Linked DNA regions of Homo sapiens: all the other regions are reported to be linked to region 7. The links are microRNA targets in miRTarBase. Many come from high-throughput screens and were not tested one by one. Region 7 holds a microRNA gene; each other region holds the end of a gene's coding sequence.
The links. Region 7 holds the annotated microRNA hsa-miR-4306 (UGGAGAGAAAGGCAGUA, at 2,519-2,535, shown strand). A microRNA usually pairs through its seed, bases 2 to 8, with sites in the 3' UTR of a target mRNA and lowers its output. Matches are read on the target gene's strand: a 7mer-m8 pairs with bases 2 to 8, a 7mer-A1 pairs with bases 2 to 7 and ends in A, and an 8mer does both.

Region 1: the mRNA of RAMAC is a reported target of hsa-miR-4306. Seed matches in the 3' UTR shown: 7mer-m8 at 2,468-2,474.
Region 2: the mRNA of BHLHA15 is a reported target of hsa-miR-4306. Seed matches in the 3' UTR shown: 7mer-A1 at 978-984.
Region 3: miRTarBase lists CDC37 as a target of hsa-miR-4306. Seed matches in the 3' UTR shown: 7mer-A1 at 3,262-3,268 and 7mer-A1 at 3,246-3,252.
Region 4: miRTarBase lists C10orf105 as a target of hsa-miR-4306. Seed matches in the 3' UTR shown: 7mer-A1 at 2,618-2,624, 7mer-A1 at 2,357-2,363, 8mer at 1,510-1,517 and 7mer-m8 at 600-606.
Region 5: miRTarBase lists ZNF385A as a target of hsa-miR-4306. Seed matches in the 3' UTR shown: 7mer-m8 at 3,122-3,128.
Region 6: the mRNA of TERB2 is a reported target of hsa-miR-4306. Seed matches in the 3' UTR shown: 7mer-A1 at 770-776 and 7mer-m8 at 831-837.

What each region holds. Positions count from the first base shown.
Region 1 is chr15:82,989,166-82,993,400 of GRCh38, reverse strand. It overlaps RAMAC (RNA guanine-7 methyltransferase activating subunit), which reads right to left. Exons shown (of 4, transcript NM_031452.4): 3 at 4,213-4,235; 4 at 2,344-3,520. The coding sequence ends at 3,334. It also overlaps a transcript of C15orf40 not described here. Among named protein-coding and RNA genes, the nearest start is that of RAMAC, 5.1 kb to the right of the region's middle.
Region 2 is chr7:98,212,324-98,216,547 of GRCh38, forward strand. It overlaps BHLHA15 (basic helix-loop-helix family member a15), which reads left to right. Exons shown (of 2, transcript NM_177455.4): 2 at 1-3,134. The coding sequence ends at 556. It overlaps TECPR1 (tectonin beta-propeller repeat containing 1), which reads right to left. Exons shown (of 26, transcript NM_015395.3): 26 at 2,301-4,224. Among named protein-coding and RNA genes, the nearest start is that of BHLHA15, 3.0 kb to the left of the region's middle.
Region 3 is chr19:10,388,138-10,392,381 of GRCh38, forward strand. CDC37 (cell division cycle 37, HSP90 cochaperone) reads right to left here. Exons shown (of 8, transcript NM_007065.4): 8 at 2,996-3,569. The coding sequence ends at 3,414. Among named protein-coding and RNA genes, the nearest start is that of TYK2, 9.7 kb to the left of the region's middle. RefSeq lists enhancers at 618-1,118, 698-757.
Region 4 is chr10:71,712,699-71,716,698 of GRCh38, forward strand. It overlaps C10orf105 (chromosome 10 open reading frame 105), which reads right to left. Exons shown (of 2, transcript NM_001164375.3): 2 at 1-3,644. The coding sequence starts at 3,639. The coding sequence ends at 3,238. CDH23 (cadherin related 23) reads left to right here. Exons shown (of 70, transcript NM_022124.6): 28 at 1-115. Among named protein-coding and RNA genes, the nearest start is that of C10orf105, 5.1 kb to the right of the region's middle.
Region 5 is chr12:54,367,029-54,371,230 of GRCh38, forward strand. It overlaps ZNF385A (zinc finger protein 385A), which reads right to left. Exons shown (of 7, transcript NM_015481.3): 5 at 3,899-4,068; 6 at 3,598-3,693; 7 at 2,108-3,458. The coding sequence ends at 3,228. The region is part of intron 1 of GPR84-AS1 (GPR84, ZNF385A, ITGA5 and GTSF1 antisense RNA 1); the gene reads left to right. Among named protein-coding and RNA genes, the nearest start is that of GPR84, 4.6 kb to the left of the region's middle.
Region 6 is chr15:44,978,137-44,982,354 of GRCh38, forward strand. It overlaps TERB2 (telomere repeat binding bouquet formation protein 2), which reads left to right. Exons shown (of 7, transcript NM_152448.3): 7 at 353-1,093. The coding sequence ends at 492. Among named protein-coding and RNA genes, the nearest start is that of TERB2, 24 kb to the left of the region's middle. RefSeq lists a silencer at 1,942-2,142.
Region 7 is chr13:99,640,605-99,644,848 of GRCh38, forward strand. It overlaps MIR4306 (microRNA 4306), which reads left to right and starts at 2,455; the gene lies at 2,455-2,545. The region is part of intron 1 of CLYBL (citramalyl-CoA lyase); the gene reads left to right.

The sequences.
Region 1 (4,235 bases), not on the chromosome of region 7:
ATCCTTAATTCTCAACGTCTTCTGCCCTACCTCATCTTCTGCCCGTTACTCTACATCCTTTATGTCAACACTACGCTTTACAATTTACCAAATACTTCCCTCCCGTTGATTCAACAAATGTTTATGCAGCACCTATTGTGTCCTACTAGGGATTTAATGGTCACAACTCTATATTCTCAAGTTCTTCCTTTGATTATTTATTTTTATAATTCTGTGAGGGTGGCAGGGTGGGTATTGTCCCCATTTTTACAGCTGAGCCAATAAGCTCAGTGTTTACATGATTTTCTCACGGTCACATATGTTTTAAGCACAGAACTGGAAGCTAGGATTCCTTATACCTAATGCCATATGTTATTACAACAGACTACTTGAAATTAATTCTATTTGACACTATTTTATTTGCTCTCACTCTTAAATTATCTTTAAGCTTTTTTTCATGTTATTTTCTGTCTTATGAAGCAGAAACTGTACCTTTTATTTCTTCCTGGTTTTAAGCAGATCAGGGGCAGGGGTACAGTCTGATAGTAACTGCTGTTAAAAAACAAAAACCATAACAACATAGATTATTCATGCAGCATGCAGAATTTACTCATGTTAAAAGGTTTCCTCCCATTTTTTCAAGCACGGCTGATACTCAGGACACAAGCAGCCTAGCTGTGTTGGGTGTTAAAACATTTAAATACTGTTGGAAAACCACCTCTCTTCTGAGCTTCCTGAGAAGTACTCCTCCAGCGCTGGCCTTGGACCCATACATCTCCCTTTGTGTCAACAGCTGGCACAGCACAGAATCCTGACCTAAAGCTACAGTCAGCTATACTGTCCCAACTACTGGTCAGTGCCTGTGCTTTCTCAGGAGATGATTTTATAAATCTTTTTTTTTTTCTTTGAGAGAGTTTCGCTCTTGTTGCCCAGGCTGGAGTGCAATGGCATGGTCTCAGGTCACTGCCACCTCCACCTCCCAGGTTCAAGTGATTCTCTTAACTCAGTCTCCCGAGTAACTGGGATTACAGGCATCCGCCACCATGCCTGGCTAATTTTCGTATTTTTAATAGAGACAGGATTTCACCATATTGGCCAGGCTGGTCTCGAACTCCTCACCTGGGGTGATCTGCCCATCTCAGCCCCCCAAAGTGCTGCGATTACAACTGTGAGCCACCGTGCCCAGCCTATAAATCATTACTTTTAAGAGACAGCATCTATCTAGCCCAAACTGGAGTACAGTGCCATGATCCTAGCTCACTGTAGTCTTGAACTCTTCCCGGACTCAAGGGAGCCTCCTGCCTCAGCCTCCTGAGTAGCTAGGACTACAGGCGTGCACCACCACACCCAGCTAATTTTAAAATTTTCTGTAGAGACAGGATCTTGCTACATTGCCCAGGCTGGCCTCGAACTCCTGGCTTCAAGTGATCTTCCCGCCTCGGCCTCCCAGAGTGCTGGGATAACAGGTGTGAGCCACCATACCCAACCAGGTGATATTTTTGATAACACTTCTGCTTTCAGAGAAGATTCTGGGGTGTAGTCAGGACATTACTATCTAGACTAAATATCTGTAGTATCAAATCCTATCTTTATATAACAGCACTGGCTTCTTGCCTACTGATGTAATTAGGGAGGTTACAGGGAAAACCCTTACTATTAAAATTGTATTTGCATCTTAGTGTGACTGCCCGACTTATTAGGTCATTTCCAATAAAACAGTTACCCGAGAGGATGGCTCTTCAGGAAGGGAGAATAAAAGGGAGAGGTAGATGGAGAGCATGAAGTACCTGGAGAAGTCAACCTCGAGGGCCTAGAGTGGGGTGCTAAGAGAGAAGGCATTAAAAATAGGTTTACGAAGATGCCCCCGTTTTTTTTATGAGATGAAGTCTTGCTCTGTTGCCCAGGCTGGAGTGCAGTGGCACGATCTTGGCTCACTGCAACTTCCGCCTCTGGGCTTCAAACAATTGTCCTGCCTCAGCCTCCCGAGTAGCTGGGATTACAGGCATGTGCCACCACACCCGGCTAATTTTTGTATTTTTAGTAGAGACGGGGTCTCATCATGTTGGTCAGGCTGGTCTCGAACTCCTGACCCCAAGTGATCCGCCCACAGCCTCCCAAAGTGCTGGGACTACAGGCATGAGCCACCATGCCTGGCTGGAAGACGCCTTTTTAAATATATATATTTTTTTGTCACTCTAATAAAGTCAGGAAGGTGCCTGTTAATTCCTTTGACCTATGTTGAAATTTGCACTCTTAATGTTACTGTTAAACCAAATAAGCCCTTTTCAACAGATATGAAGGACAGCATAAAAAAACCCAAAAATCTCATTTCACCATATTAATAAATGGGCTAACTGCCAGAACTTGGGAGTGAAGATGCTTAAATATTTTAAAATTTTTATTTGAATGAAATCATTGTAATAATCATTAAAGTGATTTGAAATAGAATGATCTCTGTGAAAGGAAGTTTATAGCATCACTATTTATAGGAGAGAAAGCAGCAGAGGTATGCATCTGGAAGTGAATATAACATTGTAAAATCAGCCCACATTAAATACCAAAAAAGTAAGAACCATCAAAATGCAGCATTATTTACAGGATTAAAAAGTGTGAACAGTACAGAGTTAAACTTTCTTATGTGTGAATTTTGACCTGCTATGTTGTTAGCAAAAAGCTTTAGTGTTTGTATAAAATGATGTGTACCCTTATCCCAACCACCACCAGATCAAGACACAAACTGACAATGATTCCTTCCTTATTTTACAGCTTTATTACTGATTTCCCTCTAAAAAGAGACTCAAGTGTGGAGCTGACTCATCTATAGATTAAGGAATCACAAAGTACCATAGTCACTTAACAAATGCAAAAAAAAAAAAAAGCAATTGTTTTACCTTTCAACTGCTGATGTTATGTACAATCTATCACAAAAAGCATAGCTGTGCATTCATGAGCTGATTATATCAACCTCTAGAATTTTAGAAACGAGCACATCTAAGCATATGGATACTCTCTTACCTTACAAAGTAAAAGCATTTTCTATTTTAAAATTTTTATTTCTGTGTAAAACAAAGAATTCCTAGAGGTCAAATAATATACCAAACTTAAAGCACTATTAAGTCATGAAACAAAGAAGATTCTGAGGTAGAAGTCAAGCAATATAATCCACAGTTTCAGGTATTCCCAGCAACCATCGCATTTCGCAAGTAAGATCTATTTTTTTTAAAGTCTCAACTTCCAAAAAATCAATAATCCATTCTGTAAAATCAGATGTAAAACTATGACCAACAGAAGACACCCAAACTTTTCTCATGGTAACAGAGTAAATGCTTTTACTAAAAGCTGCCAACATTTCTATCAGTAGTAACCGTAAGGAGGCCGCTGGTTGTAACCATAATGTCCATATTGCTGGGGATAGTAAGGTTCTTGTCTGTGTTGCGGGTAGTTGTTACCCCAGGATCGTCCATGCCACTGATTGGATCGATTGTCACTTGGCCACCCCCATCTGTTGTCCCTGCCTCTGAACTGTCTGTTGTCTTGCAACCTACAACAATAAAACAAAAAAGATCTTTAAACTTCCCTTGTTAAAAAAAACATATGACAAACCCATAGCAGTGCTTCTGGTTTCTCATTCTAATACACAATAAATAAGACTAAAAAACATTTTTCACAATAGAATGTTATAGTGCCAGTTATTCAAAACTTTCCTAAGATTGAAATCATTCTTCCAGTATTATACTAGGTACACTTTACAGAGACATAGGCAGACTATATAACCAATAGAATAGTTCCAAATTAAAGTGAAATCTATTCAATTGTACAAAAATGGTATGGTAATTTATTCCTTTGACTATTTTGAATTATTAAGTAAAAGTAACTTCCATTTGTAAACTTCTTCCTAAAGTAAAATCGAAACAATGTTTTCTTTATGGAATTGAACAAGCTGTAGAAAACTCTAGGTTTTTAAAGTAGATTTGCATTGAAAATATTAGTCTACAGAAAAAACATCTAAAAACAAAAAAACACACGCACTTGAACAGCAAGGAAAAAATACATGGTGCTGAAAAAATATTAAAGCAAATATTTATCAGAAATGATGTACCAGGTACTGTTATTAGGTACTAGGTATGCCATACCAAAAACACTGGTCCCTGCCCTCACTGGCCTTCCAGTCTAGCAGATTAAAGCTATCCTCTGCCAGATCAACTATCTGCATTTATTCTTTTGAATACACACCGATTGCCTCTGTTTCTTTGGTT
Region 2 (4,224 bases), not on the chromosome of region 7:
CCGGCCCCCACGGCGCCGGGCCCCGGTGCAGGACACAGAGGCCACCCCCGGGGAGGGGACGCCCGACGGGTCCCTGCCGAACCCGGGGCCAGAGCCGGCCAAGGGTCTGCGGAGCCGGCCGGCCCGGGCCGCAGCAAGGGCTCCGGGCGAGGGCAGGCGCAGGCGGCCAGGACCCTCCGGGCCCGGTGGCCGTCGTGACAGCAGCATCCAGCGGCGGCTGGAGAGCAACGAGAGGGAGCGGCAGCGGATGCACAAGCTAAATAACGCCTTCCAGGCCCTGCGTGAAGTCATCCCCCACGTGCGCGCGGACAAGAAGCTCTCCAAGATCGAGACGCTCACGCTGGCCAAGAACTACATCAAATCGCTGACGGCCACCATCCTGACCATGTCCAGCAGCCGCCTCCCAGGCCTGGAGGGGCCGGGCCCCAAGCTCTACCAGCACTACCAGCAGCAGCAGCAGGTGGCTGGGGGTGCGTTGGGGGCCACGGAGGCCCAGCCCCAGGGCCACCTGCAGAGGTACTCCACGCAGATCCACAGCTTCCGAGAGGGCACCTAGCGCCCAGTCCTGGGTGGGGGTGGCGGTGGCCGCAGCTGCCTGGCCTGCTCCTCCCAGCCCCAGTCCCTCCAAGCCACGAGCCCCAGATGGGCGGTGACACCCCACAAGGACACGGCCTCAGCGGTTCCATTTTCCCCCGAACATTCAGCCACTTCCCTGGAGCAATTTTTCCTGCCCCGCTGGGGACCAGCGAGTGGCCTAGTTGCGGCTGTGGCCCTGGACAGCGGCGTGAGGCCCAAACCTCTAGGTAGGGCCCAGTTGGATCCTGATTTTTCATTGAGCCAGGCAGTCTCAGCCCGAGTTGAAAGGCCTCCTTAGCCTTGGAACTAACGTCTCTTCACCCTGACTTCTGGGCAAGGGGAGATCCCAGGAAAAGGTTTACCTGCAGGTTTTCCAAGGCCAAAGCCCCAGCAAGGACCCCCTCTCCAACCTTTGTTATAGGGCTACATGGGGCCTGGGCTCAGCATCCTCATTTGGGGTAAACTGAGGCCCGGGACAAGCCCGGCAGAGCCTAAGGCTGCTCGGGGAGTGGGGCCAATCAGAGATGATTGGAGCTGCCAGAAACTCTAATCAGATGACCTCCAATTCATCCTTAAAAGTTGAATGGTGGGGAGGGGCTGGAGTCTCTTCCTCCCTCCTCCCAAGTTGGGGCTCCTGGATGTGTTGACTCCAGGCTGTGCCTGGTTGTGGAGGGTCTGGGGCAGGGTGTGAGGGGTGCTGTGGAACTGGAGCAGGAGACAGGGCTGGGTGTTCCTGGTGCAGCCCTTCTGGGCATGGGAGAGAAGCCCCAAGGCCCTGGGTTGCTCCCCAAGAGCAGCTCTGAGGCCTCCTGCTCAGCCCTGGCCTGTGTGGGGAGCGAGTGTGCCCCCCACCCAGCCCCTGCCACCGCCGTTACTTATTCTCACTGATGTGGGGTTATCATATAATTGGCACCATGCTGTCTGTAGGACATTATGACGTGCTTGGGTTCTGGTTTGAGTTGGCAGCCCGTTGGGTCTCTCTGCCTGGTGGAGCCTTGGGGTGGCAGGTACGTCCCTTCCCCCGCCCAGGTGCTTCATCCTCATGGCCAGGCCTGGTGGCTTGGCACGTCTCTGCTGCCCCAAGCCCAGCTTCCTTCTGCTGGGCGTTCCTGCCCCACTGGCTCTGCCGGACTTGGCTACTGGACTCTCCCCTCCCTCATGCCTCTGCCCAGAGATGTCCCAAAGGCCCTCAGGGCCAAGCCGGGCCAGGGATGTGGCTGCCACAGCTGAGACCAAGGGCTCTGGCTGGCCCGTCCCCACCAGGTGGCCCTGCCCTCCCCAAGTTGGGGGTTGTGGCACTTGGGGTCAGGCCTAGCCACGTAAGGACACAGGTAACACCCTGAGGATCTGGCATTGGCAGCTTCAGGCCTAACTTTCCTGGTCAGGGCCCCTTAAGGTGGCCCGGGCACATTGGTTTCATTTCGATGAGACTTTGTCAGAGGCCTGGTCTGGTCCTGGCCCTACCGCCCCAGCTGTCCTTCAGCACAGCTCGGGGTGGGGACTCCAGGATGCTGGGTCTGCCCCTTGGGAGGGGCACTCTGGAAGGTCAGGGTGATCCACAACTGTGAGCTGAGGTTGGATGCAGCTGGGAGCTTGGGACAGAGAGAGCCCAGGGCTCCCCTGCTGTGGGGCACCTGCCCAGCGGGGACATGAGATGACAGAGACCTCCCCGGCGGGGGTACTCAGGTGCTACGAACATGGCAGCTCTTGTTTCCGGCTGAGCCATGGCCAGAGCAGGGCTCAGTCTGCCCCTGAACTTGCTGAATGGACCGACGAGCTGAGCCTGAAAGCCCAGAAGAGCCTCGGTCCAGAAGACGGAGACTCGGCCCGGTGTCCAGCGCAGCCCAGGGCTTCCTGGGGGGCAGCAGGAGTGCCTGGGGGTCACCGCCTTCAGGACAATGGCCTCAGTGGCTCTTTCTTTCTGCCCTGAACTGGCACCTGCACCTCCTCTGCTTCCTAGAGGGTGACCTGGGCCGAGCCGCCCAGTCCTTCTTCCCCTGAGGCCAGAGGGGACGCCCCGCGGCCACATCACACAGGATCCTCAGCAGCCATAGTCTCGCTTCAGGGTGTCCAGTGTTTCGAGGAGGAGAGGGGACAGGGGCCAGGTCCACTCCCTTGGCCCTCCTCTTGGACCCCAAGGCCAGGCCGGATCCTTTTATCCCGTGGGGAGCCCCTGCCTCGGCCATCGGGATGAGGTCCCTCAAGTCCCTGCACAAGCAGGTCAGAGACCCACCCACATGCCGTTCCTGGGCTACGCCACGCGCCATCCCCCGGGGCTGTGGACGCACCCAGCCCCCGACAGACAGGCGCCCTGAGAGCTCCGAAGGCGCGATCCCCATCCCCACCAGTGGAGAAGCCAGAACCGCGATTGTTGCATCTGGGAAAACCCAGCTGGAGCCGAACGGCCCGTGCCCCCACTGTAATTGTGCTGAAAATGTTTCTCAAATGACCCAAATTGGCTCTTATTTTTTCTAATGGCCCTTTCAAAGTATTCATGAAATTGATGCTGTGTCATAAAACAAAAATAAAAGATTTCACAGCAATGTCTGCTTCAGGCACACGGGGAACCACGCGTTTTAATCAACGTATCGATAAAAAACACCAGGGCACGGACACTCCAGGGGAAATGCTTATTGAGTAAAGTATCCGAGGAAGTGATGCAGGGCAGGTAAACAGCTGGTGCTCAGCAGCGAGAGGACGCGTCACTCTGCCGTTCTGCAGGGTGACGCCCTCCCCGTACCTCGCTGAGAGCCACCTGCAGACACAGCAGGCCACAGCAGAATGCACAGGTCACTGTTGTAGGGGAACAAATCGTAATGCCCAGAGAAAACCTGATAGTGAAATGTAAACAGACAGGACAGGGTGGTTCCAGGTGGCCACCACCGCCAGGCCCTTCCCGTGATTGATCTGAGAGCTTCACAGCCGGCGGCACTGGGACCCATTTCCAGAAACACTGGAACACCAGGTCTCTCAGATGCCCGCGGGAGGGGCCCCAGGGAGGCCTTTCTCAGCATCAGCTTTTGGGTGACAAACCCCATACAGCAAAACTGTACAAATACACACAACGGACCCCCAGCTGACAGTGAGACCAGGACCCTAGGAAGGTCAGGTGGTGGTGAAGTCATCCCCTCTCCAACCGAGCAGAGCCTGGGGTTGGGCTCTGATGACCTCCCGGGCAAAGTGTCCAGGTGGAGGAAGCAAACTCCCAAATGGGGCACAGAGGTAATAAAAAGCAGCTGAGAGACTGCGGGATGGGGTCGGGGCCACTTGGCCGACACCTTCTGCCTCGCCTGGCCGGGCCGGGCCAGCCTCTCGCCACAGGATGGAGGGTGACTGTGCACCCTGCTCCATGTACAGGACGGGCTGAGGGTCCCATGGCCACTGCCGACAGACACAGTAGTACTGCTCCCCACAGAAGCCCGCAGTCTGCACCCTCCTACAACATGATTTGACATCCAAGAAGCCCCTGTCACCAGCGCATCTGGGGAAGGGGCCGAATGGGGGTTGATGATGGTGACTGCACACACGGACACTGCCTCCAGCCATGGGGCAGCCTCTCATCCTCTCCCAGCCTCCCGTCTGGTACCCCGGCCCCCTCAGGGAAGAGGACATCCCATCCACTCCAGTGTTATTTCCAATCTGCTGTCT
Region 3 (4,244 bases), not on the chromosome of region 7:
GAATGGCGTGAACCCCGGAGGTGGAGCTTGCAGTGAGCCGAGATCATGCCACTGCACTCCAGCCTGGGCGACAGAGTGAGACTCTGTCTCAAAAAAAAAAAAAAAAAAAAGCCAGGTGTGGTGGAGTGCGCCTGTAATCCCAGCTACTTGGGAGGCTGAGGAGGGAGAATCCCTTGAAACTGGGAGGCAGAGGTTGCAGTGAGCCCGAGATCATGCGACTGCACTCCAGCCTGGGCGACAGAGTGAGACTCAGTCTCACAAAATACAAACAAAATCTTCAATAACAAGGAATGCAGTATTTTGAAAAACTGAAATTAACACCAAAATGTGTATGATGAACAAAAATTATTATTATTATTATTATTTTTGAGACGGAGTCTCACTCTGTTGTCCAGGCTGGAGTGCAGTGGCGCGATCTTGGCTCACTGCAACCTCTGCCTCCCGGGTTCAAGCGATTCTCCTGCCTCAGCTTCCCGAGTAGCTGGGATTACAGGCACGTGCCACCACGCCTGGCTAAGTTTTGTATTTTTTGTACAGACGGGGTTCCACCATGTTGGTCAGGCTGGTCGCGGACTCCTGACCTTGTGACCCGCCCTCCTCGGCCTCCCAAAGTGCTGGGATTACAGGCGTAAGCCACCGCGCCCCGCTCAAAAATTAAAATTTTTACTCGGCAGGGCACACTGGCCTGTAGTCCCAACACTTTGGGAAGCTGAGGCGAGCAGACTGCTTCAGCTCTGTTCAAATCCAGCCTGAACAACATGGAGAGAACCCTGTCTCTGAAAAATAAATAAATAAAAAGATCTTGGAAGGTGTCTGAGGCTCAATCAGGGTTCCAGGAGTCCCCCTGCAGCTCCTACCTGTCGTTCTCACTCATACAAAACACTAAGGAAAGTTACTAGATTTGCAGCTCACTCCTGCCCCCTGGTGGTGATCGGCTTGGGCACAACAGCATTCCAGGGGTTTTTATCCAATGCTTTTGCAAATGTTTCCTGAAGGTCCCCTTTCTGGCACTGTGTATGTTGCAAGAAAAAGTCCGTGCTCTGGTGGCACCCACAGTACATGGGAGGTGACAATACACAGGTCTGTGTGAAGAAAGGCATGTGAGGCAGGTTTGGTGGCTGAGCATGAGGGGAATTAAAGTAGGTCAAGGAGGGCCTCAGAGAAGTGGCATTGATCTGTGGTCTGAGTGACAAGCAGTCCCCTCAGAGATGATGTCCCCCAGGAGAGGTAGGCATAAGTCTACTGGATCGGAGGTATTTCATGTCTTAAACTGATGTGAACCTGGGTATTTATTGTACTTTGATCTTAGCTCACTGCAGCCTTGACCTCCCGGGCTCAAGCAATCCTCCTGCCTTAGCCTCCCAAGTATCTGTAACTACAGGTGCGCCCCACTGCGCCCAGCACTGTTTTTTTTTTTTGTTGTTGTTGTTGTTTTTGAGATAAGTCTTTGTCACCCAGGTTGGAGCGCAGTGGCGTGATCCTGGCTCACTGCAACCTCCACCTCTCAGGTTCAAGCAGTTCTCCTGCCTCAGCTTCCTGAGTAGCTGGGACTACAGGCACGTGCCACCATACCTGGCTAATTTTTGTGTTTTTAGTGCAGACTGGGTTTCACCATGTTAGCCAGGCTGGTCTTGAACTCCTGGGCTCAAGTGATCCTCCTGCCTCAGTCTCCCAAAGTGTTGGGATTACAGGTGTGAGCCACGCCTGGCCGTGCACTCTTCTTTAAGACTTTTCCTGTGGCAGAAATATTTTGTGACTTTTGAAGACGGCCAGCAAGTGCCAAGGTCCCCGTTCAGAGAATCTGAGTGCCAGGTGCCAGTTGTCTGAACCATTACCTCACTTGTCCCCCTCACTACGGCCTGAGGAGGGCACTAGCGCGACGACGTTAGCCCTAAGAGCAGGGACACTGAGGCTCAGCGCATCACCCAAAGCCACACGAAGAGAAATTTCAAGTGCTCAAGGGCCAGCATGGAGTTGGGGACAACAGGGCAGCGAGGCAACAGGCAGATGGTGCTGGGGGCCTGGTCAGTTGCAGGGAGGACTTCGGCTTCTGCTCCCAGGGAGGGGAGTCCTGCGAGGCTTTTGAGCAGAGGTGGGACATGCCCTGACCTGGGTGTTCACAGGTACCCTCTGGCTGCTGCCTGTTCAGGGGCTGACTTGTAGTGGGGAATGAGGAGGAGGCTGGGGCAGGAATTAGAGCCAGAGGCGATGGGGACCTGAAGGCCATAGGGACAAAAGGCAGTGGTCAGAATCAAGAATGTTTGGGGGGGTGGGGCCAAGTGCAGCGGCTCACACCTGTAATCCCAGCACTTTGGGAGGCCAAAGTGGGAGGATCACCTGAGGTCAGGAGTTCAAGACTAGTGTGGCCAATATGGTGAAACCCCATGTCTACTAAAAACACAAAAAATTAGCCGAGTGTGGTGGCGGGTGCCTATAATCCCAGCAGGAGGCTGAGGCAGGAGAATCACTTGAACCTGGGAGGTGGAGGTTGTAGTGATCCGAGATTCCACCACCGCACTCCAGCCTGGGTGATAGCTGGACTCTCAAAAAAAAAAAAAAAAAAAAATCTGTTTGGGGGCAGCGCTGGCCATAGGGTGGGGAGATATAGTCCATCCAGGATGCTGCTCCAAAAGGTTGTAGGAAGCTGGAAAGGTGTGGGGTGCGGGCAGGTGCGCCAGATCCACAAAACCCTAGGGAATGTGACTTGGTTTGCAGATCACTACTGCCCTCTGGTGGTGATCAGCTTGGGCCACCCTGCATTCTGGAGGTCCAAGTAGGGACAAGGGAGTGGGTGGGTGAGACTGAAGGTTGGGGGCTTTTGAGGCCTCTGGAAGAAGACTGTTCCAAGTTGTGGAACAGCATGTGTGAGGCGAGGACCCACGATGGCTGGTGGGCAAAGGACCAGAGAAGCACAGCTCAGCCCCCAATATCCCACCAAGTTTCCCTCCCACCTACAAGAGATGGGCTGCCTGAACGGCCCTCCCAGCAGCCCAGAGAGCATCTGAAATCTTTTATTGGAAGATCATTGCTGTTTGCCAAATAGAAGACACAGACAGCAGACGAACAGTGAAAACAGAGCCCAGTGACGAGAGCCGGCCCCTTGGCTGGGGACCCTCCCCAACTACCTGGTAGACCAGCCTGGTGACCTCTGCCCTTCCCCGGACCCCCGGGCCTTTGGCATAATGCTGATGGGGGGCTGCAGGCAGTGAAGCCCCTTGACTCAAAGCAGAGACTTGAATGGGCGCTGGAGAGTGGAGACAGTGGAGAGGCCAGGGAGGGCTGGGCGGGCCCCCCAGGCTGGGCCGAGCAGCGCAAGTAGAGGAAGTCAGGAGCGGGCGAGATGGCATCTATCTGTTTTCTGAAAAGGGGCACATAGGGGCCTGGAAGCAGGTGGCGGTGGTAGCTGGGGCAGGTCACACACTGACATCCTTCTCATCGCCCGTCTTGGGAACAGCTTCCAGTAATGGGTCCCCAGGACCTGCCTCCTCTCCCTCCTTGGCCTCGCTGGCCTTAGAGTTGGGGACCCAGAGGCCAGAGTCAATGCAGCGCTGCATGTGGTACTTTGCGTCCTGTGAGGAGAAGGCAGGCAGATGAGGTGGGGCCGCCAGCCGGTGGTCCCCGTTGTCCCCGTTGTCCCTTGCACATCCCCAAGCTGGCTTCCTGCCTATTGATATTTTACCTATTTGAGACGGAGTCTCACTCTGTCACCCAGGCTGGAGTGCAGTGGTGCAATCTCGGTTCACTGCAACCTCCACCTCCCAGGTTCAAGTGATTCTCCTGCCTCAGCCTCCCAAGTAGCTGGGGTTACCGACGCCTGTCACCATGCCTGGCTAATTTTACTTTTAGTAGAGATGGGGTTTTGCCATGTTGGCCAGGCTGGTCTTGAACTCCTGCCCTTAGGTGATCTGCCTGCCTTGGCCTCCCAAAGCACTGAGATTACAGGCGTGAGCCACCGTACCCAGCTGGAAATTTAAATTTTATTTAACTTTAATTTAAATTTAGATAGTGCAATCTAGAACAAAAGCCAGCAAATTTTTTTTTGGTAAAGGGACAGACTAAATATTTCTGGTTCCGTGAGCCATATGGTCTCCATCACGACTCAACTCTGCTGTGGTAGAGCAAGATCGGTTGTAGATGATAGGGAAACAATTGAGTGTGGCTTCTTTGTTCTAATAAAACTTTATTATAAAGACAGGCAGTGAGTCTGGGAGCTGCGGTTTGCAGAACCTGGTCTAGATGGCTAT
Region 4 (4,000 bases), not on the chromosome of region 7:
AGCCACCGTGTTCGTCACTGTCCTGGATGTGAATGACAACCGGCCCATCTTTCTGCAGAGCAGCTATGAGGCCAGCGTCCCTGAGGACATCCCTGAAGGCCACAGCATCTTGCAGGCAGGTGGCCCGTGGCCTCTGGGGCAGGTGGTGGGCTGGGGGAGGCGGAGCCACACACGGCCCTGAGGGCACATGCTCAGTGGCACCAGAGGCGGAAGCAGGTGGGGGCCCAGGGTGGGTCCGCTGCTCTGGAAGGTGCTGTGGGGAAAGGGGGACCCAGGCCCTCTCCCATCCCAGGGAGTGTGGGCCCCCAGGTTGCAGAGCTGAGGATAGGGCTCTGGCTCCCCACAAACAGGAGGAAGACTTGGCCTCCCCCTGCATATCTCCCGCCCCACCCAGAAGGGCCTTTCAGAGTAGCGGGGAGAAAGAGACGTCACAATTTCCCGGAAAGGAGTTGAGAAGAGAGCCAGGGCCCAGCAAGGCCCAGAACAGAGCTGCTTTCACAGAGCCCTTGGCCGAGGCTCCCCTCTTGGGAAGTAAACAGGCACAAGAAGAAAGGGCTCCTTTGCCCAGGGAGCAGGCGCAACAGCTCCAAGGCTCAGAGGGAGAGAAGGGAGGACCCTGAAAACAATTTGGGTGTGCACCCACACCTCTGCCCAGAGGCCTCAGTTGCTGGGTGGGGAGGGAGGCCCGGAGTGAATGAGTCTCTTTACCAACTATGGGGTTTCCGACTCGGAGGCTGAGCCAAACAGGGAATCTGGGCCTGCCCACTGGGGCAGGCTCCCGGGCTTGGGAGGGACAGAAGCGTGGGAGGCTGGCAATGCTCCCCTCCCTGCATCGGGACCAGGAGGCGGGCAGGAAAGGGCTGGGGAGCAGGGAGCTGACTCCCAGAAACACAGAGAGCCCAGAAAGCCCTGAGGATTTGCGAGAGTGTGGTGGCTAGCTCCAGAAGGAGGAAGTAGAGGGTTCTCTCGATCAGGGCCTCAGCTTGTGAGGACTTGGAGCATACCCCCCTGGCCTGGTGCCTGAAACCCAATTGAGAGCCCTCCCCCTCCTGGACTTTTCCTTCTTCAGGCCTCAGGGCAGCCTCAACCCCCACCCCAACCTCCAGGAAGACAGTGCCTAGTGGCCAGCAGGGCCTGCTGGTGAGGTGGATGGCTACAGGCTGAATCCAGCCTAGGATTTGCAGGGAGGCCCCAGGGGAAGCAAACCAGGAAGAGGTTACTGAGCAGGAAGGGAGGAAGGAACAAAACCCTTAGGGAGGAGGCCTGCCCCACTTTCTAAACCCAAAGACTTGGTTTCTATTTACACAATACTACTCTTACTGAAATCCTAGAGCCAGCGAGTTAATATAGGGCAGCCCTGAGTTCTCCCATTTCTCAGGGAGAAATGCAGCGTCTCAGGATGACTTCTCCAAGGTCCTCTTGGTAAGTTTCTTGTGAAGCCGGACTCACTTTTTGAGATCAGATTGACTTGGAAGGAAGGGACAGTGGGCTTCTCCAATAGAGCCTGCTTGGAGAGAAATCTTTCTAGAGTCATCTGAGGGAAGATGAGGCTCTGTGTTATGCCAGCTTCCACCAAGACTCCTGCCTCAGAGGGTGGGGACACACCCAGGCTGGGCCACGCTTCACTCTGTACACAGAAGCCTCATACTTCTGTGCACAGAACTGGGGAGTCAAAGTGAGGGGCTGGACAATGTCTGGCTCTCTGCAAGCTCCCAAGCTGGTAGGAAAGAGAAGACATAGACAAAAAGGACCCATGCTGCCAAGAGAATGTTCCTTTTCCTCCCCAAGAGAGGTAGGAGACAGTAGGGGCGGCTCCAGGCAGGAGGGCTTCACAGAGTGGGTGTGTGTGAAGCATAAGCCACAGTTAGTGGGTGACAGGTCTTTCAGTTTTCCTGGAGTTTTGGATCAAGATGAGGCTAGAAAGATTAATTGGAGCCAGCTCCCAGAGGGCACTGCACACTGCGCTGAGGAGCTTTGGCTATATCCATTTGGCATTAGGGAGCCAGTGAAGGTTTTGGAGCTGGGGAGTGGCAAGCCAGAGCTCACTCCTTGGGGAGACGTGGCTGGCTGCACTGTGGGTCACAGCAGGATGGGGGTGGGGCAGCTTTGTGGTGGGATCCTGGCCAGCTGACTGGGACAGGAGCTGGGCAGCCCAGGTCCTCCCTCTGCCCACCCTTCAAATTTGGGACCTGACCAAAGTGTTTAACCCTCGCGTTGTGAGGAGAGGTCAAGGGTTTGGGATTCTGAGAAGCCCATCCTGGGGTGGGACTGCTTTGACGGGTCATCAGCAAAGCACTCACCAAAACCACAGATAGCATCCCTAGTGTGGGCAGGACTTGGGACCCCACAGCTGTCCTGGAGAGGTCCAGACCATCCCACCCTCGGGGAGGCTGCCGCTTTCCCTGGGTGAGGTGTGGAGCTGCTGTGAGCTGTCCTCCTCCGAGTCCAGGTGGCATCACCTCCAGCTGCTGGAAATGCCCTGCCTCTTGCCACTCTGTCACAGCACCCGCCCTGGCCTCTGAAGGGAGCCTCCTCGATCATCTTCAATCCCTTCCTGATTGATCCCAACGTGGGTGCCCTGAAGAGGGGCCACCAAGACGGCTGCCAAGACCATGCTTGGAGAGCCCTGTTTGCTCCTCCTCCCAGCTGGCACCCAGGCATCTGTTCCACCAGGAGGGAGGCAGCTGCTCCCACAGGGCACCAGGCAGATGCTGGCAGCACCCGGGAAACCCAAGGAAGAGAGCCCCGAGGTTTTGCCCCAGCACTGGGCCAGCACAGATGCCAGGACAGTGTCTTGGCCCCGGTGTAGGCTGAGCATTTCACTTGACTAAAGGGAACCTTTGCCATTTGGCAACTTCTCCATGCTGGGCTTTGGCACCTGGAGGGCAAGGCTTCTGTGGCGAGCGAGGGTGCTGCTTCTAGGAGGTGGTTACGAGCCCCAGGTTGTACCCTGTGGAGCCTCAGGCCAAAGGCCCAGATGACCACGAGTGCACATCTCTTGACCAGAAGTCTTTCATCAAGCAGCAGCGAGGGGGTCTGCAGAGAGGAAGGTGCTCTTCTGAGGATCATCTTTGGGAAAGGGCGCTGGCCTGGGCATGCAAGGAGCTTCGGGGGGTGAGTGTGTGTCCCAGACTGCTTGGGCCACTGTCTTCCTGCAGCCTGCAGCACCGGTCTCTGAAGCAGGAGGATCTACAGGTAGACCTAGGGGGATGTGGGGGCATGTTTGTGGACACCCCATTACATCTTGGTAGATTCCATGTAGTCACAGTGGCTGCGGTTGTCCTCGGGGCCCGGCAGGGGCTGTCGAGGGACGGTGGGCCGGCCATGGCGGAAGCTGTGCAGGGAGAGGCGCAAGGAGCCCAGGCGCTTCCAGAGCCGGAGCTGGGGCTCACTGGGGCTCCCAGGGTGGTGGGGCATGCACTCGTGAGCCCTGCGGCGGCTCGGGTCCAGCGCGGCCGGCTTGCAGAGCGTCATGAACAGCAGACAGGTGGCCAGCAGGAGGAAGATGCAGGCCAGGGCGATGAGCATGGGGAGGGGGTCAGTTGCCTCTGCAAGGGTCCCGGGAGTGACGGGAGCTGAGAGAAAGGCGAGGGGGCTGATGGCTGGGGAGCTGGCGAGGCTGGGGCCCTCTGTGCTCATGGCTCCTGCAACAGCAACAAGACAGAAGCTCAAAGGCAGATCAGCTGGACCCAGGGCAGCGGGTATAGGGAAGACTTACCTAGGGAATGTGGATGGGGGCAAGGCACTGTTAAACTGGACAGCATCATGGCCACATCACAGGTTAAGACAGCAAGGTCCAGAGACATCACAAGTCTAAGTGTACACACAGCTGAGCAGTGATGGAGCTGGGCCCAAGCTCAGGCCCTCTTCCTGTTCCACCCTGTGCCCATCTGCCATGCAGACAAGAGGGCGGTGGCCTGTCCGCATTTTCAAATCAATCCTCATGAATCATCACAGGGTCTTAGGCCTGGAAACTTAAGACCAACTCTGTCAATAACTT
Region 5 (4,202 bases), not on the chromosome of region 7:
AATGATATATCAGAGGCTTAGAGAAAAGGAGCATACTATTAAGTAGGAGGTGAGGAAAGGGTTCACAGAGAGGTTACTGAGCTGCATTCTGAATGATGAACAGGAGAGTTTTTTGGGAGATAAGTAGAGGGACATTCTAGACAAAGAGAACAGTATGTGTAGAGGCGCAGAGGTTCAGGTAGAAGCCAACAAAGGGCATGAGGTAGAGAACAACAGAGAAGAGCTTGGAGAGTTGAGCAGGCAGGGTCAAGGGGGACCTTGTGTATCGTGCTAAGGAGCTGGTTTCATGCTGAAGGAGTTGGTGAGATTTGCACTTAGATTGCTGTGAGTAAAGAATGAAGGCGTGCAGCCTGGGAGTGAGCGAAATGGGTAAAGAGGCACTAGTTCAGACGAGAGATAGAATGGCCCTAAGTTAGGGCCAGACCACCTGTACAACTGCATAGGGCCTTGCAGTTTGAAGGGCCTGGTGCTTGGTTAAATGCTCGTCAATCACTGTTTTTAAATTCTTAATACTATACTTTTTGAATAAGGGGCTCTGCTTTTTCATTTTGCACTGGGTCCCACAAATTATGGAGCCAGTCCTGGTTAGGGCAGTGGTTGTGGGAATGGAGGAATGATAAGGATCCATAGGTTGTTAGGAGGTCAAATAGGACTTATTTAGTGATTCATTGGATGAAGAGTTAGGAAGAAGGAGGAACTAGGATAACTTTCTGTTTTCCAGACAGATGGTGGTGCTCTTAATAAGATAGGAAATGTGGGAGGAGGAGCAGGCTTAGGGAAAGGGGTAAATAATGAATTCAGTTTTAAACTAGCAGACTTGAAGTACTTGTGGGGTCTGCTAGGATCCCAGACTCTCTAACCCCAATTTCTTCCAGTCCCTATCTCCTTCCCCACATGTGACCCAGCCCCTGCTTTTCTCTACCCACTCTTCTATAGGGCCTCTCTTGTCCCGCATCCTTCTGAATCCTCCCACCCCTTTTAAAGCTAGATTTACCTGGAAACAAACATGCAAACAAACACCAAAACACTCCTTATTGGGTTCCAATTCTGAACCCACAGTGAACACCCTCCTTTCAGCCTCACAGTTGACAAACCCAGGAGTCCCCCATTCCCCTCTCTTTCCTGTTTAACAGACATCATCCCAACTTCCCTCCTCCTTTCTTCTGCAAGACTGGGAAGTGGGTAGAGTGGGGGAAGTGAGCAGAGATGAAAGTCGGGAGGAACTCACATAGATTCTGGGTTTTGGTTTGGGCTTTTTTGTTTGAACTTCCTGCCTCTCAGTAGGGATAGAGGGGGTCAGGATTACTGGCTGCTCTTGGGAGTGTATGGTTGAACCACATTTTGGAGATAACGGAGAAACCATTTTCCTCACATACCATGTGAGAGACAGCTGAACAGTGTTTCCCTGTTCCACAGACCATTTAGGGGCCAGTTGAGAAGGTATTCCAGTATATCTGTAAATGGCACAGTCTCAGTTCTTCAGTCTTGGATACATGAGATCTTAATGAACCTTTGAAAGACTCAAGTCTCCTTATTTTGAAGACTGTGACACTGAGGTCCAGAGAGGGCAAGGACTGACTCAAGGTCACTATTTATGTGGGGCCAGAGCCTAGAGCTCAGATCCCCAGTCTCTGCCCCCCGTTTCTTCCTGTGCCTTGAGTCTCGCTGGCGTGGGTTTCCCACCAGACACACAAAAGCCTGGATTCTTTTCTTTGTCTGAGACTGAGTCTAGACCCATCTGCGTGGAATCTCGAAACACATTACAGGAGCGGCTTAGCCTCGGGCTTAGACTCCTTTTCCGGGTCGTTGGCGCCGCCTTGTGGAGTTGTGGCAAATTCTCAACAGCTGCAGCTGCAGTCCCAGACTTGGACTAGAAATGATCCCCCAGGCCAAGTTTACACGAGCTGGACGAGAGTGGGCGTGGGTGGGATGGGGAGCCTCTGCTCACTCTGCACAAGCCTCATATTTTGCCTCCCCCACCCCCGATTTCCGTTTCCCTCCTCCTTCTCGCTCCCTTTCCTCTTTCTGTGCCGGTCCCATACAGATACATTTAACGACAGAATTGCTCCCAAAACAGCGGGCAAAGACAGAGTCTGAGTCTAGGGGCGGAGGGCAGAACAAATTCAGACTTTATTGTCAGGGAGAGGAAAAAGGGGAGGACCGTGGGTGGGGGGCCTGGGTTGCTACATTGTCAAGCAGAAAGAGTTGATGGGAAGGGGAAGACCAGTGTAGGCCAGACCCCTCCCGGGTCGGCGGCTGAAGGGTTGACGATACGGAAACCACGGAGTCGGGGGTGGGGGAGAGGTGTCACACCCCCGCCCGAGTTGTGCAGTGGAGGTGACTGGTGGGAGGGGACAGCCATGAGGTCTAGGAACTTGGATCGGGGAGGCTACAGACTCGGCGAATCCTGCGAAGGGGAAGGGCGGGGGCGAGGCTTCTATTGCTTTTTGCTCACAGTTTTGCGGAAGGCGAGGCGGGGGTGGGCTTGGACTGGACACCCCTTGCCCCCCTCGGTACCCCTTGGGCGATGGGTGCTGGTGAAAAGAATGGAACCCGGACTAGGGAGGAAGAAGGCGAGGGAAAGGTCTATGGTGGCATCTCCTTGGTCCCACCCAAGTGCCGGAGATGCCCCCAAGTGCTGCCCCCTGCAATGGGCCCGGCTAGACCTGGGGCTAGGGCATGGTGCGGGGCGGGCACAGTGAGGTTGCAGGCGGTAAAACCAAAGTGCTTATGAGGGACCCAGGATCCCGCCTGCTCCCCTCCCCCTACGGAGGACGGGGGTGTTCACGGAAGCGCTTCAGTTTGGGGTAGGGAGCCGGAGTCCCAGAGTCCGCTTATTGCCAAGAAAATCCATTTCTGTCCCCCCCGGACCCCGACCATGGCTTGTGAACCCCGTTTTGTGCTAGGTTTGGGGGGAAGGGCTGGATGGACATGGCTTTTGGGAGGGGGGGTGTCTCCAAGGGGGCTCGGGGGTGAGACGGCCCCCCCTTTTCTAGGGGAGAGGGAAAGGCAGGGGGCGGGGTTCCCTGAGATCTGGGGTGTTCCCCCCCTTCTGAAGCCCCCCTCCCCCGCTACCCCTCCCCTTTCCTGGAACCCCGTATCTCGGGGTGGGGGGGGGGAAGGAGAGATCATTTAGGGAGTGCCGGGAGGAGGGGCGGGCTGGGAGCCCGGACGCCTGGGTCCCGGCTGGAGGTGGGGAGTTGAATGGGAGGGGTTCAGGGTTGAGGTCAGTACGGGGAGAAGAGGATGGGTCCGTGCGCAGTTCGGATGGGTCCGGGGGCCGGGTGAAGCAGAGGGTGAGTGATCGGCGGTCCCTGGAGAAGAGGTGCGGCTGGAGCCGGGCGCAGGGACAGCGGCGAGCCTGCTGCCGCTGCCATCACTGCAGCCACCGCCAGGGGGCTGGGGAGCAGGCCGCCCGCCAGGGACTTGGGCAGCTCCTTGGAGAAAGTCAGCGTGCCCTGAAGCGGGCGAAAGGCGGAGGAAGAGAAGTCACCCGGCGGTCCTGCAAACCCCACCTCTCCCTGGGCAAAGCCCGCGTCCCTCTCTCCTCCCCGCCCGCGCCCTCCCACTGCTGAATTCCCAGCATCCAGGCCTCACCGCCAGCTCCCCGGCGCCCCTAGACTTCTTGTGACGGCTCAGTAGTGGGTTGGGCTTCCCGGCCACGCCGTCTCGGTGCCGCCGGCTGGAGATGTGCTGCGGGGGCCAGTGGATAGGGGGCTGTGAGCTCCCGGAAAGGGGCAACAGCGAGGGAGTATAATCAAGCTCCAAGCACCGGCCCCCTCCCATCTGGCCCCCTGGGGAAAACTCTGAAGAAGGGCCTTTACTCAAGCTCCTTGCTCCCCTTCCCCACTTAGCGGGTGGAGCGTCCCAGAATTCCTGGGAAGGGCCTTAGACCCACCTGTTTCAGTTGGACCTCCGAGTTGACCTTGACATTGCAGATCTCACAGTGGAAAGTTCGGTCCTGGGCAGGAGCCTCTGGTTCCCCCGGGGTGGGAGGCCCCAGCCGAGGGTAAGCTTTGATGGGCCCGAGCCCACTTCGGGCCTCCAGAATTGTCTTGTGCTTAGTACCTGGAGCCCAGAGAGGGCAGGAGGTAAGGGGTGGAAGAAAAATTATCCAGGCCTACTGGGCCTCAGAATGCACATTCCCAGGTACAATATGAGGGGGAAGAGGGTGGGCACAGTGTGGGTTCTTTCTAACTAAG
Region 6 (4,218 bases), not on the chromosome of region 7:
ATAGTTCTAAGTGATTACCGTCTAAGCTAGAAACACTTCCCAGTTATTTTTATCTAAGTTCTTTTATGTCCTAGCCCCAACCTAGACATCACAATCTCAATAGTCAAAGCAGCTTTAATCCACCTTTTAATATTTTAAAAGGTGGCAGAAAGTTGTGGGAGGGGAAGAGGAGGTGTTCCCGGATAATTATAAGGTTTCATGGAGAATCTTCTCACTGGTATTATTTCTTCTTTTTACTTCTTTTCTAAAAACATTCTTTAGAAGTCTTAACTCTAATAAATCAAAGACACTGAAAAGCAAATAGTATGAGCGGGTTTTAAGTATATATCTTTTTTTAAATTTTATTTTGTAGGTTATATATCAATTGATGCCATGAAGAAATTCCTTGGGGAGCTACATGACTTCATTCCTGGAACCTCAGGATATTTGGCATATCATGTTCAAAATGAAATTAATATGTCTGCTATAAAAAACAAATTGAAGAGGAAATAGTAAATTAAATTGTAAATACCTTGGCATTTATTTTCTATAAAATATTATACAGATGTGCATATCATAAAATGCTCCCTTTTGGTACTGGGGGATAGTGAAATGGGAAATAATTTTTCTGTTTCTCAAAGTATATCTTTAGGAAATACAGAATCATTTTGGTTCTGTGTTTTGACATTTTTCCCCTAGCTTTTAACAACATGTTCAAATATTCTCAATGCACAGTTGTTAATGAGTAATTGCCGTTAAAATATATTTCATAAGAAGTCTCAATCTCAAACTCTCCATCTCTCAATCCTCCTCCTCCTCCTCTTTCTTGCTTTCTCTTTTCCCTCTCTCTTTCTCTCCTCCCCTTCTCTCTTTCTGTCTTTCAAATGTTCTTTTGGCTTTAACATTCTATTAATTATATTTTTTCTAGATTGAATACTGTGAATGCTAAGTTTTATTAATCTGGTCATCTTATTTTGATTTTAAAAATTAGGATGCTAGTTGCATTCTGAATTACTGTTTCTGGTTTGAAACATGGAGAAAAACATTTTAATAATTCATATTTCATGTTGGATGGTTTCTAATAATAAATATCTCAAAAGTGACTTAACATAAACAGACTATGAGTGTTATGTCTTGTTAGATGAACCTGCAAGTCACCTTAGAATCACAGTTCTAGAATGGAACTTAAAGAACGAGTCCAGTTCACTTATTGTTTTTAATGAGGAAATAAGGACCTTGAGAAGATGTCTTACTTAGGGGGACTAACTGGGGGCCAAAACAGAATTGGAACACAACCATCTTGATTTTCTAGGCAAGTGCTTCCCCACTCTCCCAAATAGCATACGCTGTAGCTTCTGTGCCAGGTACAATACAACTGCAGATCCGCAAAGCAGACCCAGAAACAAGCCAACATGCTTGCCTTTTAATAAGCTGAAATAGTGAGGGAGAAGAAAAGGAAAAATCAGTTAGGCAGACCACTAAGGCTAGTCTTCTGAGAAAGAGCCTGAAAAAATCACAGCTACAGGCATAAATAGAGCAGCCTGGGGAAAAACCAAACTGCACCTGCACTGATAAGAAGGCAAGGCCCAGCATAGAGCCTTTGTTCTTTGTGTGATTAGCAGGCTCTCAGGAAAAAAATTCCTCCCATTTTCAGGCATTTACATGGTGGGCTCTGTGGGAACTTGCACAGGGAGGTGAGGGGCTTGCCTAAAACAGACCCACAGTTACACAAACAAGAGAAGCTGCACTTTGTGCTTACCCAAGATATACAAAGATAAGGAGAGTTACATACACAGCTTCATAGATAAGGGAAGTTACACAAACAGCTACAGAGTTGAGGGGAGTTTCACATAAAAGCTTTTGGATTCAACTGTAAAAACAGCAGCTCACTCGGGTCCGTTCTCCACTGTGGAGAGCTTTCTTTCTTTTGCTTATAAAAGTTTTGCTCCAACCTCACCCTTGTGTCCAGCCTCCTTAATTTTCTTGGTTGTGAAACAATGAGCTCAGATAACACCTCAAACTACAAGACCATTGACCCTAGACAGTTTCATTAGTATTGAGTTGTAGTCATTTCAAGAAGGCAGTTTGTTATCTTTATTCATATGGCCATGCTATATAGAGTCTGATTGGTTTATTACATTTTTGTGTCTTATAAATGACAGTGTTATTTGTGAAGCTATCATCTTAGAACTGTACTTCTTCCAAGCAAGTGAATACCAGCTGTAGAATTATCTAAAGAAAATGCACACTTTTTTTTAGTGCTTGGACCATTTGGGTATATGTGGGCCCTGGCCCTGGCCCTTCTCCCCTGACTCAAATTTCATAAGACAAAATTTTAACACTACTTTTGGCATCAGCATTTGAGAATTATATTTTTCCATATGATAACTTTTCCTTATTTATATTCACATCTGTGGTTAAGCCCTTCAGATCTTGTAAATTACACAAAAAACAGAAAAGACAAAAACCTTAAATGTTAATTATCTTTCCCTGAAACACATTTCTCCTGAATACTTTATCGTAGTTACATACCATTGATTGTTTCTTGTATAGAAACCAAGCCTGTCTGTAAATCTTAAATTAATGACTAAGAGGATTAAGTAAATGTACACCAAGTTGTGTATGTTGGAATTTCTTGAAAGAGAGTATCCAGTATTTTTCTGATATATTATGCATGTGTAAATTAAAAATTATAATGAAACAGTTTTTTAGGTTTGTTTCCCAAAGTGATTATATCTTTAGGTGTATATAATAAAGCAAAATGTAACCTATATCCTTGAAATATTGTCAGGCACAATAAAATCAGTGATAACATAAGCCTTCCAGGAATTAGAAGCATATGAAAAAATAAAATAAGCAAAGTTGAACTAGTTTTAAGTTTATTGTCTTAATGGGAAGTGAAAAGCAATATGATCTTAGTTACTGCTCATGTAACCTTTTTTAAAAAATTGCTTTAATGTAGCTGATGGATATTGCCTCTGAATATCCTTATAAAAAATGTTCTCTGGCCGGGCACGGTGGCTCAGGCCTGTAATCCCAGCACTTTGGGAGGCCAAGGTGGGCAGATCATGAGGTCAGGAGATTGAGATCATCCTGGCCAACAAGGTGAAATCCCGTCTCTACTAAAAATACAAAAATTAGCTGGGCATGGCGGCACGTGCCTGTAATCCCAGCTACTCAGGAGGCTGAGGCAGGAGAATCCCTTGAACCTGGGAGGTGGAGGTTGCAGGAAATAATATGGAATTGTAGTAGAGATAAAAGAAATTAATAAAATAGGAAACAAACTTACAATAGAAATGATCAACAAATCAAGAAGTTGAGTTTTGAAGACTAAAAGAAATTTATAAATTTCTGACTGGATTGGCCAAGAGAAAGAAAGAAGGCACAGATAATATCAAAAATGAAGAGAGGAATACTTCTCAGATTCTAGAGACATTTAAAAAAATTATGACCAAATTAATGTCAATAAATTTGAACATTTACATGAACTATTTAAATTTCTAGGAAATATATCTTACTAAAACTGCCATGAAAAAGAGAAAATCTGAGCAGTCCTTTAACTGGGAAAAATAGTGATTTTATAATATTAAAAATCTTCCTACAGCCCCACTAATTACTAGATTTTGTCATCTTAGTGAGCTATGTAACTTGTTTCCGCATCTGAGAAATGAAGATAGTAACAATGCCATAGTAATATTGAAGGATTAAATGAGAAAATGCCTGTAAAAGTGCATTGCACAGGGCCTAGCATTTGCCACATGATCAATGCAGCTTGCCTTTATTAGTTTCCTTTACAGCTATGGTGTATCACTGAGTGCAGAATGTGTGTGTTCTTCAGGCTCCCTTGTGTGCAGGCTCTGAAAGGTAAAGGGGCCTGCTCTTTGTTCTGAAGTAAAACTGCTCAGGGCATTAGGTGGATCTGAAATTTAAAAATAAAATTGAAAGTAAATCAATCTTTTCCTTAAATCAGATTGTCTCTGCTTTTGTTTTGCACACCTGCCTCAATATCAGTCTTGGAATTTTTTTCCTGCTGTTGTGGGTGCAATTTTTGTGATATGTACAGAACCACCTACCCTACTCCAGGCCTTGGATCCTGACCTTAGTGGCTTGGAAAAGGCTGTCACTTAGAATTTACACTCCAGTCCTCACTATCACTGTCTCCATTCTTCTTCCATCTCCCCACCCTGGGGTGATTTCCCAGCCTGCTATTTGATTTTCCATTCGTATGGTTCCCCTAAT
Region 7 (4,244 bases):
AGCAGAGCTTGCCACAGTATATCCAAAACATTGCTGTATTACAGACGCAACATGGTTTAAAAGGAAAAATTGAGTGTGGGTTTCAAGTTGACACATGATAAAAGTAGCCCTGAAGTGTTCAATTAGAAACTGAAGGCCTGGATCTGATAACTTCATGGGCAGTGCCCCTGCTCTTTTGTCTTACGACCAATAGGATTTTGACTGCTCAGGAAATTTGTATGCATGTACCCAGATATAGACCTAGGCACCTAAATGCACACGTGGATATATACGAATATATGGTGGACAGTGCAGATCCAAGCTACTCCTGCTAACACATTTCTGGAAAACATTCCCTTTATGGGAGGACTTAACAAAAAAATTAGTAGCTAGTTTTACTTTGGTTTACATATATTGTTTTTCTAATATAGAATTCTCATTAGTTGGTTTTATGAATCATATCACCAAATGAAAATTTGAAAAGTATGTAACAGTTTTCTATTGAGCGTTCTCTGAATATTCTTGCCTTCAGTCCTGCTGGGAGCCTTTTCTCAGATCACCAGTGCAAGCCTACAGTCATACATTGTTTGTAGTTGATACAACCTCAATGATATAAGTTTTTTGATGATTTTAAAATATGAGTAATTAATCATTTATAACCTATAGGTTAAAATGAATTATAAGTGGATGAAGGTGGGAACCCAAATGAATCAAAGCTATTTAAGTTTGGTATTGACATTGTGCATCTTCCCATTATTTATTATACCAAAAAAATCACTTTATTTCTTAAAAATAGTACAACACGGCCAGGTGCAGTGGCTCACGCCTGTAATCCCAGCACTTTGGGAGGCCGAGGTGGGTGGATCACGAGGTCAGGAGATCAAGACCATCCTGGCTAACACAGTGAAACCCCGTCTCTACTAGAAGTACAGAAAATTAGCCGGGCACGGTGGCAGGCACCTGTAATCTCAGCACTTTTGGGAAGCCAAGGTGGGCGGATCATGAGGTCAGGAGATCAAGACCATCCTGGCTAGCACGGTGAAACCCCATCTCTACTAAAAATACAAAAAAAAAAAAAATTAGCCAGGCATGGCAGCGTGCACCTGTAGTCCCAGCTACTTGGGAGGCTGAGGCAGGAGAATGGCGTGAACCCGGGAGGTGGAGCTTGCAGTGAGCTGAGATCGCACCACTGCACTCCAGCCTGGGTGACAGAGCGAGACTCCATCTTTAAAAAAAAAATAGTCCAACACAAGAAGGAAAGAAGGTACAGAAATGGAAAGTTAAGAATGAATCAGTGGAGTAAAACATTTCTGAGATTGGTGCATTTTCCTTTTGGAAATGTCATTCAAACCATATGAAATTAAATTTGGAAATAATGTTCTGCAGTCTCTTGAATGGGATTTAAAATATGACAATGCAGAAAACACATATGGGGATGAAAACCCATAGGACATGTCTCAAGGAGGACAGACACCCTGGGGAAGAACACTTGTGAGGGTACCAGGCTCTCAGACACAAGGAAAGAGGAATCTGAGGGATTGCTGGGAAGGATTCTCATCTTATGACCCCAGCTGTGGGTAGATTTGGCTGGGGAGCCCATTCTCATTGCAGGGGGCGGTGGCCTCAGCCCTGTGCATGCTGACTCTTCAGTGCTGTGCTCTGGCTGAGGCGTGCCTCTAGTGAGGGTGACCCTGGGCACCGAGCATATTCAGTCACCATCAGCCAAAGCTGGTTGTAGGAGGGCTGGCGGTGGTCTTGGGAATGTTGCTTGAATCCATCTTGGGGTGAAAATCAGAGTATTGGCTCATTTCTATTTTTTATGATTATTGTTATTATTATTATTATTATTGAGACAGGATCTTGCCCTGTTGCCCAGGCTGGAGTGCAGTGGCACGATCACAGCTCACTGCAGGTCACAGCTCCCAGGCTCAAGCAATCCTCCCACCTCAGCTTCCCGAGTAGCTAAGACTTCAGGTGTGTGCCACCTGGCCTGGCTCATTTTTTAATTTATTTTTGTAGAGATGAGGTCTCCCCATGTTGTCCAGGCTGGTCTCAAACTCCTGGGTTCAGGTGATCCTTCTGCCTCATTCTTCCCAAGTGCTGGGGTTACAGGCATGAGCCACCATGCCCAGCCTCTCCTTCCTGCCTGCCTGCTTCCCTCCCTCCCTCCCTTCCTCCGTTGCTCTTTTATTTTCTTTCCTTTTTTTTCCTGTTGCTCAGGCTGGAGTGCAGTAGTGCAATCTTGGCTCACTGCAGCCTTAACCTCCCAGGCTCAAACCATCCTCCCACCTCAGCCTCCCAACTAGCTACAGCTACAGGCATACACCACCACGCCTGGCTAATTTTTTATTTTTTGTAGAGCCAAGGTCTTACTATGTTGCGCAGGCTGCTCTCATTTCTAATACACTGAGCTCAACTGCTTGCTGGGTGAGGCCTGCATGAGGACTTTACTCATGGGCTCATAGAAGCCCTTTTAAGCTGCTTAGTGTCCTTAGAGTCTCCAGAGGCATCCCTAACCCAGAATCTTTTGACTGTCCTCTGGAGAGAAAGGCAGTAGGTCTGTACCAAGACCAAGGGGCTTGAAGGCTTGGACGCTCTGCTTCCACCTGCCTCTGGAGTGGCCAGAAGTAATGCCTGTTCTCATGACCAGCCAGTTTGCCTCACTGCTCCGGTGCCAAAGGCCAAGTTTTGATTGGAATGATGTCTGTATATTCTGAATAACCAGGAATTTTGTTTTTCTGATTTACAGATCTTCAGGCTTTTCATCAGCATGATTTGCCATCTCTGTCTTTGTCATCTAGGGTCTGTAATTATCCTCAGGTTTTCTGCCAATACCTGCATTTTCAACCAGTTAGAAAAAGAAGAGCTAAAACAGGTAGAAGCCTGAAACCAAGGGGCATATGCATTTCTGAAACATTTTCAAGAAATTGTCTCAATTTTATATTTCTGTTTATAATTATAATTTCAATGTCCAGTGGAGGAAGTTGTGAGACTCAATGTCAGTAGCTACCACTTACTATTCTGTGCGCCTCGGTTCAGATTGTTTGGGGCAGTGGTGTTTTATGTTGTGGGTCCAAACCCATGAGTCATCTGGGAAGTTAATTTATTAGGTCACAATGAGCGTTTTAAAAAATGAACCATAGGCCCGGCGCAGTGGCTCACGCCTGTAATCCCAGCACTTTGGGAGGCTGAGGCAGGTGGAGCATGAGGTCAGGAGTTGCAGACCAGCCTGACCAACATGGTGAAACCCCGTCTCCACTAAAAATACAAAAATTAACTGGGAGTGGTGGCGGCGCCTGTAATCCCAACTTTTCGGGAGGCTGAGGCAGGAGAATCGCTTGAACCCAGGAGGCGGAGGTTGCAGTGAATCCAGACTGCGCCATTGCACTCCAGCCTGGGCGACAGAACAAGACTCTGTCTCAAAAAAAAAAAAAAAAAAAAAAGAACTGTAACATAATAGGAAATATTCAATTCTGAGCCCATCACACATTTTGTCTTATGAAACTTTTGGTTTTTTATATGTGGTGTATGTATGTATATGTGGTGTATGTATGTATATGTGGTGTATGTATGTATATGTGGTGTATGTATGTACATGTGTATGTATGTATATGTGGTGTATGTGTATATGTGGTGTATGTATATGTGGTGTATGTATGTATATGTGGTGTATGTATGTATATATGGTGTATGTATGCATGTGCAAGCTCTCACTATAAATACACTTCTTCCTGTGGGTTGCAGTAAAAAAAAATTTGAAAACTGTTACCTTAAGACTATTTATTTTAAAAATTTTAATAGGTACATAGTGTATATATTTATGGGGTACATGAAATGTTTTGATATAGGTATACAATGTGTAATAATCACATCAAGGTAAATAGGGTATCTCTGACCTCAAGCATTTGTCATTTCTTTGTGTTTCAAACATTCCAGTTATACTCTTGTAGTTATTTTTAAATATATAATAAATTATTGTTGACTGTAGTTATCCTGTTGTACTATCAAATACTAGAACTTACTTCTTTCTATCTCACTGGATTTTTGTACTCATTAACCATCCCCAGTTTCCTTCCTCTACCCCACTACCCTTCCCAGCCCCTGATAACCAATATTCTAGTCTCTGTCCCCATGATTTCAATTGTTTTAACTTTCAGCTCCCACAAGTGAGTGAGAACAGTTGAAGTTTGTCTTTCTGTGCCTGACTTATTTCACTTAACATAATGTCCTCCAGTTCCATCCATATTGTTGCAAATGGCAGGATC